2 linked regions of the Homo sapiens genome follow. The protein of the gene in region 1 interacts with the protein of each later gene in a biochemical or structural test. Each region holds a gene or a part of one and is shown on either strand. Other genes may lie near its edges. The genes, in order: STXBP4 and RASSF6.

The links.
Region 2: the proteins of STXBP4 (region 1) and RASSF6 interact in a test that uses a peptide from one of them, tested with the Homo sapiens proteins (one large-scale study listed by IntAct).

What each region holds. Positions count from the first base shown.
Region 1 is NC_000017.11:54,996,103-54,999,932, forward strand, and holds part of STXBP4 (syntaxin-binding protein 4), read left to right. Parts: intron 1-3,242; coding exon 3,243-3,349; intron 3,350-3,523; coding exon of another isoform or gene 3,524-3,529; coding exon 3,530-3,740; intron 3,741-3,830. UniProt on the Homo sapiens protein: Plays a role in the translocation of transport vesicles from the cytoplasm to the plasma membrane. Inhibits the translocation of SLC2A4 from intracellular vesicles to the plasma membrane by STX4A binding and preventing the interaction between STX4A and VAMP2.
Region 2 is NC_000004.12:73,575,436-73,579,265, forward strand, and holds part of RASSF6 (ras association domain-containing protein 6), read right to left. Parts: intron 1,297-3,830; coding exon 1,178-1,296; intron 1,073-1,177; coding exon 975-1,072; intron 898-974; coding exon of another isoform or gene 876-897; coding exon 800-875; 3' UTR 1-799.

The sequences.
Region 1 (3,830 bases):
TAAAAGTGCTTTTTGAGCAAAAAGACACAACGATTAAGTAAATCCTGGGCAACTAGAGAAAACTTCCAGCAGAGATAGTGTTTGAATTGGGCTGTGAAGTTTAAGTCAGAGTTTATTGCAGAGAAGTGGCAGGGTGGATGGTGGCATTCTAGATGGGAATTCATATGTGTGAAAACATTGAGGTTCAAAAGACCATGGCTGGTTTGAGGCACATTCTCTGAGAGTAGAATGAAGAATATGCTGGTGTGGAAGGTGGATGATGAAGCTAGAAAAAGTAAGTTGCAGTAAATTTGTTGTGCTGGGTTTGGGATGTTGAGGAGTTTCAACTTTTCCTACCAGTTGGCAGCCATCAAAGGTTCTCAATCTAATGAGTAATATAATTAAATTTGCTATCAGTATGAAAATTGTCCACAACAGATATGGAAGTCTCATTCACTTCATCTTATTTAACACGTATAATGTGCTATAATTTACATATGTTACTTAATTCTTATAGCAACCTTGTGTTACATATATTTATCCCCATTCTACAGCTAAGAAAATAGAGGTTCATAAAAGCTGAACAACTTGCCTCAGTTCACAGTAATAACTGGAGTTAAAAGAAGGTCACCATCAGTCTACATCTTGTAAAAGTACAGGAAAGGAATCTTAAGGCTTACAGAAGGACTATTCCTTAGTATTAGGTATAATGAGTTAGTTAAGTCAGAATTAGGCTGTATAGATGGTTTCTCATAATATTGAAATGTATTATTTAGAAAACTATATACCAAAGTCAATATAGAAATGAATAGTACTGGTCGTTTTTAACAGAAGTGTTTATGTGGTCAGGAATATATTATTATTTCAACATCTACATGAATGTCAATGTGAAAGAATTCAGATCTGAAGTTCAGCATATGAAAGTGCTTGGCACATTGCCTCCCATGTCAGGTAGTTGCTCTGTAACTGCTGAATTGGAATCTAGACTGTGTGGAAGAGGTCTCAACATATCTCTGAAGTTAGTATCTTCACATATACATTAATCCATCTGGGGCAGAATGCACTCGAATGCCAGACTTACAAAAATAGCTTTGTTTTCATTTGCAGGTTCTGACTTTTAAACAGGTTCAGAAATTCACATGATCAGCTAAGATCTTATTCTAGGAGGCAAAGAAAAAAACTAACTGCTATGAATACTTTTTAGAAAGAAAAAATATGTAAACACCAGAAGTCATAGTCAGAAGGCATTCTTCTTCTTCTCTTTTCTGACTCCCTTCCTGCCAGAAAATGCAGCTTCTATACATCAGTGTACTTTAATACAAGATGGGCTAAATTGCCTTCATGTGAACTTTTTTTCTGTACTAACACTGCATGTTATGTTGTCTGACTTTGCTAACTATGTTTAATCACATATTTACATAAAATCAAAAATTTTTTTTAAATTATATATATAACATAAATATATATAATATAAATATATATATTATATAATATAAATATATATATATTTTATATATTTTATATATATATATATTTTTTTTGAGACAGATTTTTGCTTCATTGCCCAGGCTGGAGAGCAGTGGCGTAGTCATGACCTTGACCTCCTGGGCTCAAGTGATCCTCCCACTTTAGCCTCCTGAGTAACTGAGACTACAGACATGTGCCAGCTATTTTTTTTTTTTTTTTTTGAAAGATGGGGTCTAACTATGTTGCCCAGGCTGGTCTTGAACTCCTGGGCTCAAGCAATCTTTCTGCCTCAGCCTCTCAAAGTGTTGGGTGTACAGATGTGAGCCACCGTGCCTGGCTTATATATTTTTAAAAATTAAGTTGACTCTTTTGGCTTAAGTATTTTAAATAATGTTTACATTTCAGTAGGATAGGGTCATTATGCATCTAGATTATATAATCTTTTACACACTATTTGAGATATGTTTCTATAAAATCCTTTCATGAATGTTTTATGTCAATTTTGTTGTTTTCCTATATATTCTTTAGTCAGTGAAAGAGATAGTACTTCATGTCTTTTTAAAAAATAATAATACCTGTTGTTATTTAGGAGTAAAATAACTGTGAATCACCATTATTACAAATAATACAGCTTAGATCAAAGATCAGTATCCAAGGGATATATTTTAGTAGATAAGACTTTAAAGAAAGATGTTTTCTTGAATTTGTGGAAGTTACTTAAGTACCATCAAGGTGAAAATCTCCCTTTTTAACCATATAAGCTTTTTCTGTAGTTATAAAAATAATGGTTTCTACCACTGTACTAATTAATGATAAATAGGGAAATACCTTAGGAACTGTAAAAGAAGAAAGCTTATTTTTATTTTCTAGTTTGAATGAAAAGAAAAGACAAAAACTGGGAAACTTATCTAACATATCTAACAACCACATTAACTCTTGTTCCTGATATGCTCTGTCTTACTCAGTTAGGCTAGCTGTGAGCAAGCCAGGCCTTAGCAAAGGCAACACCAGGCAGCCAGTTAGAATTGTCATTATTAGCAGGATATGGCTAACAATATATGCACAGCCAACTAGGCCTTAATCATAGGGGGATAGCAGGTATAGTAAAAAAGATTATGCTGAAATATGGGTAGGATCAATATAATTAAAATCCTTGGCCAGGCGCAGTGGCTCACACCTGTAATCCGAGCACTTTGGGAGGCCAAGGTGGGAAGATTGCTTGAGCCCAGGAGTTTGAGACCAGCCTGGGCAATGTAATGAGACCTCATCTCTACAAAAAATTTTGAAAATTTAATTTTTTTTTTTTAAAAACCCTTGACTAAAGTTTTAAAAATCTCAATGTGGGATAAATCCACACACACATTGAACAGTTTGGTGGGAGGACATATGTAGGAATGCAGAGAAAATAAAATAAATGAGTTTTGTATTGTGAAATATCCCACAGTTATTTGGCCCACTTTATCACAGAGTCAGAGCTTTATCAGCCCCATAGTGCTCAGTTTTTAAAACAGGTCCCTTTTCCTGGTATACTGGCCTATGTCCTACCTACCATATTAAGAATTCTTTACCACGTAAATTTATTCATGCAATACATGAACCATTCCATTTTACTCATAATATATGTTACCAAACCAGACTTTAATCAAGAGATTTTGCTACTGAGGTTGTCTAAGATTTTACTTTTTACTCTTTTTGAAGGCATTCTTCACGAAAACTTTTCATTGCTTTAATTACATCAATTAATTTTTTTTTAAATACCTCATTAGTTCCTTTATAAATGTTACTGTTTTTGTTAGGATGGTCGTTTGAAGCCAGGAGATCAACTTGTCTCAGTCAACAAGGAATCTATGATTGGTGTATCATTTGAAGAAGCAAAAAGCATAATTACCGGAGCCAAGTTGAGGTAACTATACTATCCATGAGATAGAATGAGTCATTTAGAATGTCTCCTTGAAAGCAGTAATTTAAGATGTATTAAGTACTTTATAATAAGTATTTTTTAATAACATCTGAAACATTATCTTGGATTTCAGTTGTACTATATTCATAGCATATCCATAAAGTGATTTCTTTTTAGTACTAGGTTAGAATCTGCTTGGGAGATAGCATTCATAAGACAAAAATCCGACAACATTCAGCCAGAAAATCTGTCATGTACATCACTTATAGAAGCTTCAGGAGAATATGGACCTCAAGCCTCAACATTAAGTCTTTTTTCTTCTCCTCCTGAAATACTAATCCCAAAGACCTCATCCACTCCCAAAACAAATAATGACATTTTATCTTCTTGTGAGGTAAGTCAGGTAATCTTAAATTTCTCTATATATGCACTCCATAAATTCCCTATACATTTTTACATTGGTTATGTACATATAGAATTATTT
Region 2 (3,830 bases), on another chromosome or scaffold:
CATTCAGCAACAAATAGGTATTTGTGGGCCAAGTCTTACTTTAGCCGATGTAATATGTCTATGTGATATAAACATTTTTTTGAAAAATAAATAAAGAAAAAGTTCAATTAACTTAAAAAAGAGCTTAAGAAAAGCTTTGAACTGATGAAAGGTCTTTCATCAGCAGAAGAGAGAGAATAAAAGGGCTGGGGGGAGGTTCAGAAAATTTCAATTAGGATTTCTTAACAGAGTCCATAATTTTTCCTTTCCAAAGGCCAGACAGCTCTGATGTTACAGATAGTCAGAAGTCAACAGGCCATTTAAGATAGTCCTAGATTTTATGAAAATGCCAGAGTTTTCAAGAAGCTACTGTCACTATCAGGTAGATTCCTTGATGGTGTAAGACTGTATTTCTTTTTCATTCCAAGAACTGGCAGCTTCTTTTTTCTGAGTCATTTCTGAATCCATTGATTATGTTTCAGTTCTCTTGAGAGTCCAAGCTAAATGAAGTTTAAACTGCTTATCTGAAGACACCATTTAAATTTGAGTTCATTACATGGTTTACTATAAAAGCTATTTGGCATATGCAGTATTCAAGCTTATTTCAGTTACTGAAACTAAACTCAAACTCATTTTGTCCAACTGTGAACCCTAATTAACCTCATCACTTCAAAAAGAAATGAGCTTTTTTTGACATTCAATTTTCTACGATTCAAGTCTCATATATGTTCGTATAAATGCAAGTACAGAACTTATGCATTCATCAAAGAGTAATATCTCTGAGTTTTTTGAAATGTTTTAGCAATAGAAGCTTGTACTGCTAAACTGTTGTCTCTGTTTTTATTACTAGTTTATTTTGAAGACATTTCAGTATAATCGCCTTTTCTTTATTGAATCTGAAAATGAGAAGAAGAAAGACTATTAAAAATTGGACATATTTTGTGCATTGGACATATTAAAGAACGGAGTATCCAATGTGCATGCTCTTGACTTACTTTGTTACTATTCTTTGAATCTCTCTTTTCTCTTCTTCATTTAATCTTTGAAGAATGGATTCCAAGAGAGAAAAGTGAAAGTTAATGTACTGAGCCACCTAAGAAAGAAGAAGAAGAAAAAAAAAAGAAAGCAGAACAATTATGCAAGAGGTGCTGAGTCAGGAGGGAAGCAAAAAACAGATTCAGGGTGATGGTATTCATACATCACTGCTAATTTCTTCTGCATCTTTATCCATGAGGAAAATGCGAGCATTCTTTTCAGAAGGTCCCTGTAGGAGCCTCTGCAGTAGCGGAATGTCTGTCTTCTTTAGTCGTCTTTGTTCTGCAGTGAAAACAAGAATCAACCACAATCAGAAGTTCATGCTGCAGGAAAAGAAGGAAGATAATTTTCCAATTTATTTTTCGTATTTAACTCACTTTGAAAAAAATAACACCTGCAACAGGAGGCAATTACTCAAAAAAGCAAATTGAAATTAAAACTTAAATGAACTTCTTTCTCTTACTGTATCTCAAGTTTTGATTAATGTCTCAAAGAACTCAGCCTTCCTTTGATTAGAGTGTTCAAACAAATCTCCGGTCTGATAGGCCTTTTATAAAGCAATATGCCTCAATAATTATTTAGGTTTCATTCCACCATTCCTTCATCCATACAACAAATATTTATTGGTTCTTTCCAAGTTGAGTTGATGTAATTCCATCTTTCTGGTTCTTCAGGTCCAAAACCATGTAATTATTTTCAATTCTTCCTTTGTCTCGCTCCACACCCAATTCTTGGCTCATCTTTAAAAATATATTCATGAGGTTTTTGAGATCAATAATATTCTTATTATTCATTCATCTGGGCTTAATCCATTCAGCCATGAAAATGAGATAGAGAAAGAAAATATCTTCCAATCTGGTGTGTTTCCAGAACTTCAAATTTCCAAAAGTTATAATATAAATACTCCTGCTACAAAAGTACTTATAGCTTTCTGTCAAAGTAGTTTCACATCTGGGATTTCATTTTTATCAGAATAAAGCATGAACAAAACATAGTGTCCTTATATTCATCTTATTTCCTCATTCTCTCCTTCACCTTGCTTACTTTCTTCAGAACAGTGAGAACTGTTCTCATTCCCTGAGCTGGACTTATCCCAGGAAAAGAGTCAAGAGAGAGTCTAGAACTCAAAAGCCCAGCCTCCCCACAATTAAAGTGATATTACCCATTCCTGTTCACATAGTGTCAGTGTTTACTGTTCTAATTCCTCTGCCATTTCTGAAGCAGTTGGGAGCCTTGACAACTTAGCTCCTCTCATCCACCCACCAGAATCCTCTTTTGACCTTCAGGTCCAATGTTAACTTGGCTTAGCATCCTCTTGCTTCATGATTCTGCTTTATGGGATGATTATTAAAAATAATGATTAAAAAATTATGATGATGATTATTAAAAATGCATATTCCTAGAGTTGTCCCCTGATCTGGAAGGACTTGGGAATCTGTATTTTAAGTGAACTCTATAGGTAATCTGAAATGAACTACAGTGTGAGATACACTGTAATGGGCTTTGTAGATATAAAGTTAAAACCCACCTATCTCTGTTTTCCAGATTACTGCCCAAACAGGAGCCATATGCTCTCTTCTGACCTAGTTATTATTATCTGCAGTTATGGATATATGCAAAATTTTGACACAAAATATAAAAGAAAATGGGATTTTTATAGGTGAAATTATAAAGAACTACATTTTTTATAATGAAAATAGACATTTTTTTCTTATAAAAACAACACGCTTGTTCGTTCATAGGTCCAGCACCTTGTGTGGAGCCCAAGAATGACTGGAAGGAAACTAAGCCATATTTCTGCTCAACTGCAGGCTAAAGTTAGAGGTGTGAGGAAAGAACGAGGTGCATGTGAATGGAATCCAAGTCTTGGAGAACACCAAAGAGGGAATTTTCAAATCTTGTACAACCTAGCTGTTCAAGTTATCACACAATCATTTAAGACTTCTTAATAAAACTGCTTTTTTTAAACTTAAAAAAAAATTCCCTTCCCCAAACATGCATGCTATTGTAATTGGAACAAACGAGAAAAGTATAAAGCAGGAAGTAAAGCACAACTGGAATTTCCAAGCCCTGAGATACTCTGCATTACCCTTTGAGTGTCCCCCTCACACAACTCATAATACATAAAGGTAATCATATCGTGCTTGCTATTTTTATTGTACACACCTTTAAACAAATCATTTTTTCTCTTTTTTTTTTTTTTAGACGGAGTGCAATGGCACGATCTCAGCTCACTGCAACCTCCGCCTCCTGAGTTCAAGCGATTCTCCTGTCTCAGCTTCCTGAGTAGCTGGGATTACAGGTGTGCGCCACCACACCTGGCTAATTTTTTTGGTATTTTTAGTAAAGACGGGGTTTCACCATAGTGGTCAGGCTGGTCTCAAACTCATGACCTCAAATGATCCGCCCACCTCGGCCTGCCAAAGTGCTGGGATTACAGGCATGAGCCACCGTGCCTGACACCCCCCTTCTCATCCTCTCATCTGCATTTCCCCAATCCCCCACCAGGTAATCTATCTCAATGGTTTTGTATTTATCACTCCATACCTTTCTCCCTAGTCATAAGACCATATATACCACATACTTAAATGGGAGCTTGTAACTGTTTAAAAAATGGGATCTTTTATATATACCTTTAGGCATCTTGCATTTCTCACTTAAAATATATTATGGAACTCCCTCCATTCTATTGGCATAAATCTACTCATTCCATTCAATGGCAGCCTAACAATCACTTATTTAATCATTTCCCTAGGATGAGTAACTTTGTCTTTAGCTTTTTGTCCTTATAAACAGTGTTACACATAAATCTGTAG